Regions from separate parts of the Homo sapiens genome. Here region 2 is linked to region 1. Evidence: fine-mapped expression QTL. A gene starts in region 1. The other region holds a variant in brackets. All regions are shown on one strand. Distances are from middle to middle. Region 1 holds the start of CD24 (CD24 molecule). Region 2 has its middle 61 kb from the start of CD24.

Region 1 (4,388 bases):
TAAATATTGTAACTGAGACTTATGGAACTAGAATTCATTGGGTCACTGTCTATCCTGGATTTGCTAGGTAACTTTCACATACTCAATTTAATACAGCCTTGGTAACTTAGCCTTTTCCTTAAGGGGGAAATGCAGTCTTATCTTCTCCCTTGAAATTTGAAATAGTAACTCTTCTAAAAAATGGCCACAATATTTGTGTTAAATTGAAAAAGAAAATGAGTTTTTCCTTTAAGGCAGAATGACTTCAAGAAAACACCATGAAGTCGGAACGATTTCACAAAAGACAACGAGAGGTTATGGTGTTAAGTTTCACCAGCAGCAGCCTCACTGGTCGCCAAGCTCATTGCTGTGGCCAAGAACCAAGGTTCTCCCAGTGTCCCAGCGTCTGAGTGGCATCATTCACCACTGATTTTTCAAGCCACGAAATGCACAGTCCAGTAGGGCACGTGATAATCTCTCCTTTGTCATGGAACAAAGGCAGATCGGAGTTTTCAGCCCTCACTGCAAGGGAGGGTTTACAAGAGCTTCTGATTACAGGCTGGAGGGAGGACGTGGCACCAGGCAAGAGTCTGGGCCCCGTGTACATTTGGCTGCCTATTAATCCAAAGATAAAGCCCTCCTACATCAGCACCAGCTCCTTTTGTTGTAAAATCCATAAGGTCATTAAACAAATATTGACTACAGAAATGTACAAATCCTATCCAAAATAGATTAGTGACAACAACAAAAAAATCTTGATCAAGTCAAATTTATTTATCGGGCACCTACTGTGTGCAAGATTTAGTGTGTCCCATCAGGAAACGGCACTCCCAATAAAGAAAAGCATTAATATGGTAATTTACTTAAAACAGGGTGCCTGTTTTGGACACCTTGTTTGGGATCCCGCAAAGTAACCTGTTCTTTATTCATGCAATGAGTTTTACTGCAGCAGGTGATGTTTTCTTTTTAAAACCTGGTGTATCAATCTGAGGATCTAAAGATCCTCTACACCAACAAAAAAATTATGTTTATTAAACTGACACTAAACAAAATTTTCTCTCCCAAGCTAGATTTATTCGCATTATTAAAACTTCTCACTTACAATGTTGGAGGAAAAAAATCTGGTCGGAGAGAAGATGGGGCGGGGAGTGGAGGGGGCCGGTTTCTCGCAGCCGCGCCCCTCCCCCATCAAAGAATTGAGGAAGGCTCGGGAGCGCAGCGGACTGGGAGGAAGACAATAGGGTACGGTTACCCCGCCAGCGGTGGGGAAGCGCGTTCCACACTCAGGCTGCACTCCCAGGTGAGCCCGGACTTTCGATGTCTGGGGACGGAGGACGCAGCGCGCCCAACTTTGGGGGAGAAGCCCCAGTGACAGTCCTCGATTAACCCCAATCGAAGGCGCTGGAGAGCCGTCACTCCCATCCTCCAAACCCGAACTGACCCAAACAAACGTACCTTCTTCGCCCCCGCCCCCGCTAGGGTCTCCCAGGCCCAGCCCCCGGTCTCTCTCGCCGGCGCGGTGCATCCATACACCCTCGAGGCAGCGCTGCGCGGCCCCGGGTACCCGCACCCGGGGCGAGGTTCCCCGGATGGAGGATCTAGGGAGACCGCGCTGGTAGCGGCGACCCGAACAAAGCCTGGCGGGGACTCGGGACAGAATCGTCCCACCATGCTGCCTCCCCAGAACTAGCCAATCTGGGCTAAAATAACATGGGGATCCTAAGATGACAAGCGATGGACGTGAAAGGTTGCCTCGCAGAGAGCGCAGCGTCAGGAGAGGGTCCCCGCCTCGGCTTCAGCCCGGAACCGGGGTTTGTTTAAAAAGGGCCAGATAGCCGTAGCTTCTCCGGGATACCCAATCCAACTCCGAGGGTGGAGGATGGGCGTGAGCCGCCCTCCCCGAAAGGGACCGTCGCCTCTCTTTGTGTAGAGCGCGGGGAGCGCGAAGACATTCCTAGGGGAAAGCGAGTCCTCAGGGACCCAGGGACAACGTCCCCAGGGAGCCCGAGCTCTCCAGGCGCTAATCCCTGCAGGCACCTCGGGCCTCTGGGTGAAAGTGGGAAGTAGTCACCTGGCTGCCTGGGAAGGGACAGCGTGGAACCTGGGGTGGGGCAGGGTCCTCTCAGCCCGCACGCGGAGCTGCATTGTTCCCAGGGCCGTGGGAGGAGGGGGGGCAGCACGCAAGGGAATGGAAAAATGGGGTCCACATGGCCCTCTCCCCTGGTCAGCTAAGCAAGATTCTCTCCCGGTCCCTGTCCGTGGCCCGAGGCAGGAGCGCAGGACGGTCCCCCGGGACCGGGTCCATCTCCCCTGCCCCCACCCCGGGAACGGCCCTCGAGCCCCGCCGGGCGCCAGGGCCTCACCTGCGTGGGTAGGAGCAGTGCCAGCAGCAGCAGCCCCAGCCCGAGCCTGGCCACCATTGCTCTGCCCATGTCCCCTCCGTCGGTGCGCGGCGCGTCTAGCAGGATGCTGGGTGCTTGGAGAACCGCTGGCTCCGGGCGGGCGCAGGCAAGGTGGGGAGCGCGGCGAGCCGGCGAGACCTTATATACCAGGAAAGCCACAATAGCCGTGACGTGGCGCCGCCCGCCCACCCCGGCTCCCCTCCGCCGCCGCCCGCCGCCTCCCCGCCTTCCCCGCCCCGCTCCGGGTTCCCCAGCGCCCCCGCCGCCGCCGCCACTGCCACCGCCGCTCCGGCCCTCGCGGGCCGGGAGCCCCCCGGGCGGGCGCCGCTGCAGGTGGGCGGGCGCCGCCGGCTGCTGGTACCCGGCTGGTATCCCCGCGCCGGCTGCGGGCTGCGGGCAGGCTGGCACAGGCGCCCAGCGCCTCCGGCACAGGACCCGGGGCACACACGCGAGCCACACACGCCGCGCTGGGGGCCGGGCCCAAGTTTCCTTTGTTTCCCGGGACCTGCCATCTTACCCCCCAAAAGAAAAGTCCGCGCCTCCGCTGCGGCGGGGTAGCCGCCTGTCCTGGAGCAAGTGCATTGCCACTCAGACTGCAAAATGCGCCCCGGGGACCCGAGAGGGGCTGCGAATTCCAGTGCGACCGCGTGGGGGGCGGGCGCCGGGACCCCTCGGGCAGGGTTATCTCTCGGCCCGCCGCAGAGGAAAGGGGAACGCGGCGGGCGTGGCGCGGACGCGGGCCGGACGCTCACCCTGGCCGACGGGACCCGGGCGCCGCCTAGCGCGAACCCTTCCCGGCTGGTCGGCGCTCCTCGCAGGCGGTGTCCGGGTCCGGAGCGATCTGCGCGCTCGGCCCCGCGGCCGCGCCCTCCCCGAAGCCCTTGCTTTGTTCTGTGAGCGCCTCGTGTCAGCCAGGCGCAGTGAGCTCACGGGGGCGTCCCGGGTCCGCATCTTCCCAGGAGCTGGGGAGCCGCTCGCTGGGCGCAGACCCGCTGCCTGACGCTGCAAACTACAGGGTTTCGGTCCCCCGCGCTCCTGCCTGCGGCGGGCGAGGAGGAGACGGCCCACCCTGAGGGGACCCCCTCCGCGGCCCTGAAGCCCCCACCGCCCTCCCCGAGCGGCTCTGCTCCCAGGTTCTACTCGGGGGCAGGAACCTCCCCTCCTGGCGGTCCCACTACAATTCACCGTCCCTCTCGAATTCCTGGGGATACACTTTTTCGGTCTCTGTTGCCCGTCATTCGTTTAAAGAGCAGAACCGTTCGAGATAAAGGCATTTACTTATCCGTAGTTGCCATTAGGCAATTTAATGAACCGGCACAAAGAGGAGATTCGTCATCACTCTTTAGATTTTGGTGGAATACTTTTTTCCTATCCATCTTATTGTGAAAACTTTCAAGCATACAACAAAAGTTGAAGTAATTTTACTGGTGGAGTATTTTGAGTTTAAATTTTAATTGCAAGACTTAATCTTTTTATTGAAGGTTTAGCCCAAGTGTTTTTCAGTCTTTAAAGCAAACAGCAGAGACCAAACCTAGTATGGTTGTAAATTTGTTTAAATTTCAGTTTTGCAGAACACTCTCGTTAGTATTTTTGGTTCAATTTTTAATTGCAAGACTTAATACTTTTATTTAAGGTTTAGCCCAAGCATTTTTCGGTCTTTAAAGTAAACCACAGAGTAGTAAGATTCTAAATTTGTCTAAATTTCACTTTTGCGTGGCAGTCTCATTAAAACAAAGTAAGTTTCAGGGAAGCAAAGTGACAATGAAATCTGCAGTAGGTTTGTTGACTGAATAGTGACTGAATTGGTTTGTGCCTTCAAGGTCAGTCACTTTAGCTCAGTAACTTTCCAAGCACGTTTAAGATGTGCTTGGGAACACAAGAATTTCTGTCGAGCACCAGTGGACTTTCCTGTTTAACAGTGTACCACATTATATAGAAATACTTTGGCCGGGCGTGGTGGCTCACACCTATAATCCCAGCACTTTAGGAGGCTGAGGAGGGCTGATC
Region 2 (4,388 bases), 61 kb before region 1:
CTTTATGCTCTTCATGGATCCAAGGATGGAGTTTTGGGCCTTCTAATGTCAAAAGGCGAAGCAGAGGACATGAAGGTATTCAGTGCACATCATCTGTAGACTGGCCAGGACCACTCCACAGGCAGTGGTCTCTTATCAGGAAGGCAGGCTTATCAGTGTGTCAAAACCACAAAAAGGGAGGGGCAGTGTCAGGGAGTTGTTTGATATCCACAGTGGAGTCTTTCAAAAGGGTTGGTTTCTGTTTAATCTTTAGGGAAGAAAGACTAATGGCAGTTATCAAGGGAGGGGGTATAATGAGGCATGTCTGACCTGTCAGACCTCCCATCCCATCATGGCCAGGAACTCAGGTTTCAAGGTTTCTTTGCAGTCCCCTTGGCCAAGATGGGATTCATTCAGTTACTTGGGGGGGGGTGGGGGTGGGGCTTAGGTTTTATTTTTCTCAGTATTGAGAATTTTACCCATAGGGCTTTCTGAGGCAAAGCTTCCCATTTTGGTTCCATTGTTAAATGAAAGGTAAGAGATAGGAATTTGTCAGCAAAGAAAGGAAATTTGATGTCTTTTAAAAACAAAACATGGCATGAAGAAAGAATAACAAAATCAGAATTCCTCTGGAAATTCACTCCCATTGGCATATATACTGTTTATTTAGGGTGTTGCACAACATAAAGAGGATTTAGCACCTGGCAGGAAAGACTGAGTGTTCCAAAGATGGAGTAAACATAAGATCCTATAAAGAATTGCTAGTGAAAGACTCCATCTGCTTTCTTTGGCTGGAGTGACTGGTCACAAGGCAATTTTGAAGATGATTTTGAGTAGAAGAAGCCATATCCATGCACTGTTTGGTTTGGGGAGGGAGACCCAGGCCAGGGAAGAGGGGTTCAGCAAGTTCCAGGAGGTGAGGGCAGAAGCCCAGGAACTACACCATTCCACCCATGGCTCTGAAAACTTGGTAGAAGAAGCCCTCCATACTAACATGCACGAAGGCCCCAGCTCGCCTGCCCCAGCAATGCCAGCATCACCCTCCCTGCCCACCCGCTCTCTCACCTCGGCACTCTTACCAGGTTCTAGCACTGCTGCCTTGATGACTGCAGAGCTTCCAGCGGCCATCACAACAAAACCACAATCATTTTGCACCTAAGATGTAGAGCCTTGACCTTGGGGAGTCACAGAGATTACATTAAGAGATACAGAATGCAAGGAAATGCCCACTGGGGTTTAATCCTCTTGGGCTGCTCAAGTCCTGAGGTCTTCATAAAAGCAAGTTACTATGAAGATGGGAGGCAGCCACTGTCTGGCCTTGATTGTCCTCATGGGCCTCTGGAGTGGAAGATGAACCTTTAAAGGGGCTAAGTGCACACCATGAGGAAGAGAGTTTTAAGTGTTATACTGTGGGAGGAAAAGGCTGAACAGAAATTCAAAAGGCTCGTCTAAGTGCCATATTGAAAGAAAGTGAGAAAGCATAAGTCAGGGACCAGGAACAAGTAAGGCCTTGGGAACTTTCTGGAATCTTTTTAATTTCCTCATGTTTGCTTCTTCTATTATCTTCCTAGTATACTTTCCAGTAACACAACCTTTTCAAAATGCCTAAAGCAAAAAGGATCTGTGTGTTTGCTTTGGGAACAACAGTTAATCATGGGCTGGGGCAGCCTGAAAGAAGAAGGAAAACCTGAGGAACAGGGTGAGTC[A/G]GGAAGCTTTGGACAGGACACATAGTTGTCATAGAAGGAAGGAGAAGCAGCTGGGCCTGTTAGGTGACCCAGAAACTTAGTAATAAGGGAGTGGTTTCTCTGAAGTTTTTATTTTTATGCCCTTCTACAGTTTTGTATATTTCTATATAACCTATTTTTTGTTTATAATCTACTTTATTCCATAAAATATTTAAGTAGTCTATAGGATATAAGAAATATATTCAATAAAATATAAAGTCAAAAAAATGCAAAATGTTTTAAAAGGTTATGACCAGGAGAAAATTAGAACACGTGTTTGCATAAGGCCGTACTCTGTCACTAAACAGAGGCTCAGATTTGTCTCTGAACTTCCAGGCGCCTGAGACAGAACAGAAATCAGATACGTTACCCGAATCTCATTGTTCACTAGAAGACAAACAAACAATTGCTGAGGTAAAGTAAAAGATACTTATAGGACCTCACAGAGTGGTTGAAAAAAAAAAGTGACACCTCCACATTATCATCAAGAGGAAAGTTCACAAAGTTGTCTCTTACATGCTAAGAGGATGACTCAAGATGTAACTCAGAGTTTCTGTGGGAACTCTCCCCTCCTCACCTAACTAGAAAGCGGCAGAGCCAGATTTGGAACACAGGTCCTGTGACCTCAGCTCCTGTTTGCTTTGTACCTCCTTTCACCTAGCTGTTTCCTACTTCTCTTGCAGTCTCAATTTAAACTTCACTTCCTGAAAAAGACCTCTCTGGCCCTGGGCTGGACTAGGCCCCTGTTAGGTTCTCAGCACCCTGGGCCTTCTCTATCTTTCACACATCACATTCTTTGTTCTCATTTGTTTGATGTCTGTCTTTACCAACAGAATGAAAGCTCATGACAGGAGGGACCATCTGGTCATCTTTTTTTTTTTTTTGAGTCTCGCCCTGTCACCAGGCTGGAGTGCAGTAGCACGATCTCAACTCACTGCAACCTCCACCTCCTGGGTTCAAGCGATTCTCCTGCCTCAGCCTCCTGAGTAGCTGGGACTACAGGCATGCGCCACCACACCCAGCTAATTTTTTGTATTTTTAGTAGAGATGGGGTTTCACCATGTTGGCCAGGATGGTCTCGATCTCCTGATCTTGTGATCCGTCCACCTCAGCCTCCCAAAGTGCTAGGATTACAGTCATGAGTCACAGCGCCCGGCCTTTTTTATTTTATTTTATTTTGTTGAGACGGAGCTTCACTCTTGTTGCCCAGGCTGGAATGCAATGGTGCGATCTTGGCTCACTGCAACCTCCACCTCCCGGACTCAAGCGATTCTCCTGCCTCAGCCTCCTGAGTAGCTGGGATTACAAGCACCTGCCACCACATCGGGCTAATTTTTTGTATTTTTAGTAGGGATGTGGTTTCACCACGTTGACCATGGCTGGTCTCAAACTCCTGACCTCAGGTAGTCTGACTGCCTCGGCCTCCCAAAGTGCTGGGATTACAGGTGTGAGCCACTGTGCTTGGCCCATCTGGTCATCTTAATAGATGCTGACGTCCAGGTGCGGTGGCTCACGCCTGTAATTCCAGCACTCTCAGAGGCCAAGGCAGGAGGATCGTTGAACCCAGGAGTCCAAGGCCACCCTGGCAACATAGAGAGACCCTGTCTCTTAAAATATATATGTATTTATGTATTTATATATATATATATATGTATTTATGTATTTATATATATATATATATATATAAAAAGAAAAAATAGATGCTGAAAAAGCATTTACAAAATTCAACACCCATTCATGATGAAATCTCTCAGCAAACTAGGACTAGAAATAAACTTCCTCAACTTGACAAAGAACATCTGAGAAAAACTTATCATTAATATTAATATCATAGTTAATGGTGAAAGACTAAATGTTTTCTCCTGAAGGTCAGCAAGAATGTCCGTTCTAACCACTTCTATTCAACATTGTACCAGAGTTCCTAGCCTGTGAAATAAGGCAAGAAAAAAGAAATAAAAGGCACCCAGATTGAAAAGAAAAAAAATAACACTGCCTTTATCACAGATAACATGATTATCAATGTAGAACGTCTTGAGATTGATTTTTTAAAATCTGTGCCTATTAGTAAATAAAACAAATATGAAAGACAAAAGGTTAATTCATAAAAATTAACTGTATTTCTATAGAACAGTAATGAACAATTTGAAAATGAGTTAAGAAACAATAGAGTAAAATAACCTCAAAAATGTGAAATACTTATGGATACATTTAACAAAATGTATATGCAAGACATATAAACTGAAAACTTCAAAACATTTCCTTGAGAAATTAAGAATGATCTAAACATATGGAGAGACATTCCTTGTTCATGGATTGGAAGACTCAATATTGTGAAGATATCAATTCCTCCCAAATGGATCTATAGATTCAAAATAATCCCAAATAAAATTCCAGAAAATTTTTTGTAGAACTTGACAAGCTAATTTTAAAACTTATATGGAAATACAAACGACATAGAATAGGCAAACAATTTTGAAAAAGAATAGTCAGAGGACTTATACACGACCTGATTTCAAGATTTATTATAGGCCAGGAACAGTGGCTCATGCCTGTAATCCCAGCATTTTGGAAGGTCAAGGCAGGAAGATCACTTGAGCTCAGGAGTTTGAGTCCAGCCTGGGCAAGAGAGTGAGACCCTGTCTCAAATAAAGAGAAAGAAATAGAACCACAGATAATGCATGTGGT

What was found. PIP is the estimated chance that this variant, and not a neighbour inherited with it, causes the effect.
Region 2: its variant is the best candidate, but not a certain one, in a credible set for the expression of CD24 in unexposed skin (GTEx, PIP 0.69).

Annotation. Positions count from the first base shown.
Region 1 is chr6:106,972,236-106,976,623 of GRCh38, forward strand. It overlaps CD24 (CD24 molecule), which reads right to left and starts at 2,494. Exons shown (of 2, transcript NM_001359084.1): 1 at 2,343-2,494. The coding sequence starts at 2,411. RefSeq lists silencers at 2,846-2,995, 3,036-3,255.
Region 2 is chr6:106,911,604-106,915,991 of GRCh38, forward strand. No RefSeq gene overlaps it. Among named protein-coding and RNA genes, the nearest start is that of CD24, 61 kb to the right of the region's middle. RefSeq lists an enhancer at 2,162-2,231. The variant A/G (reference allele first, on the strand shown) is at 1,686.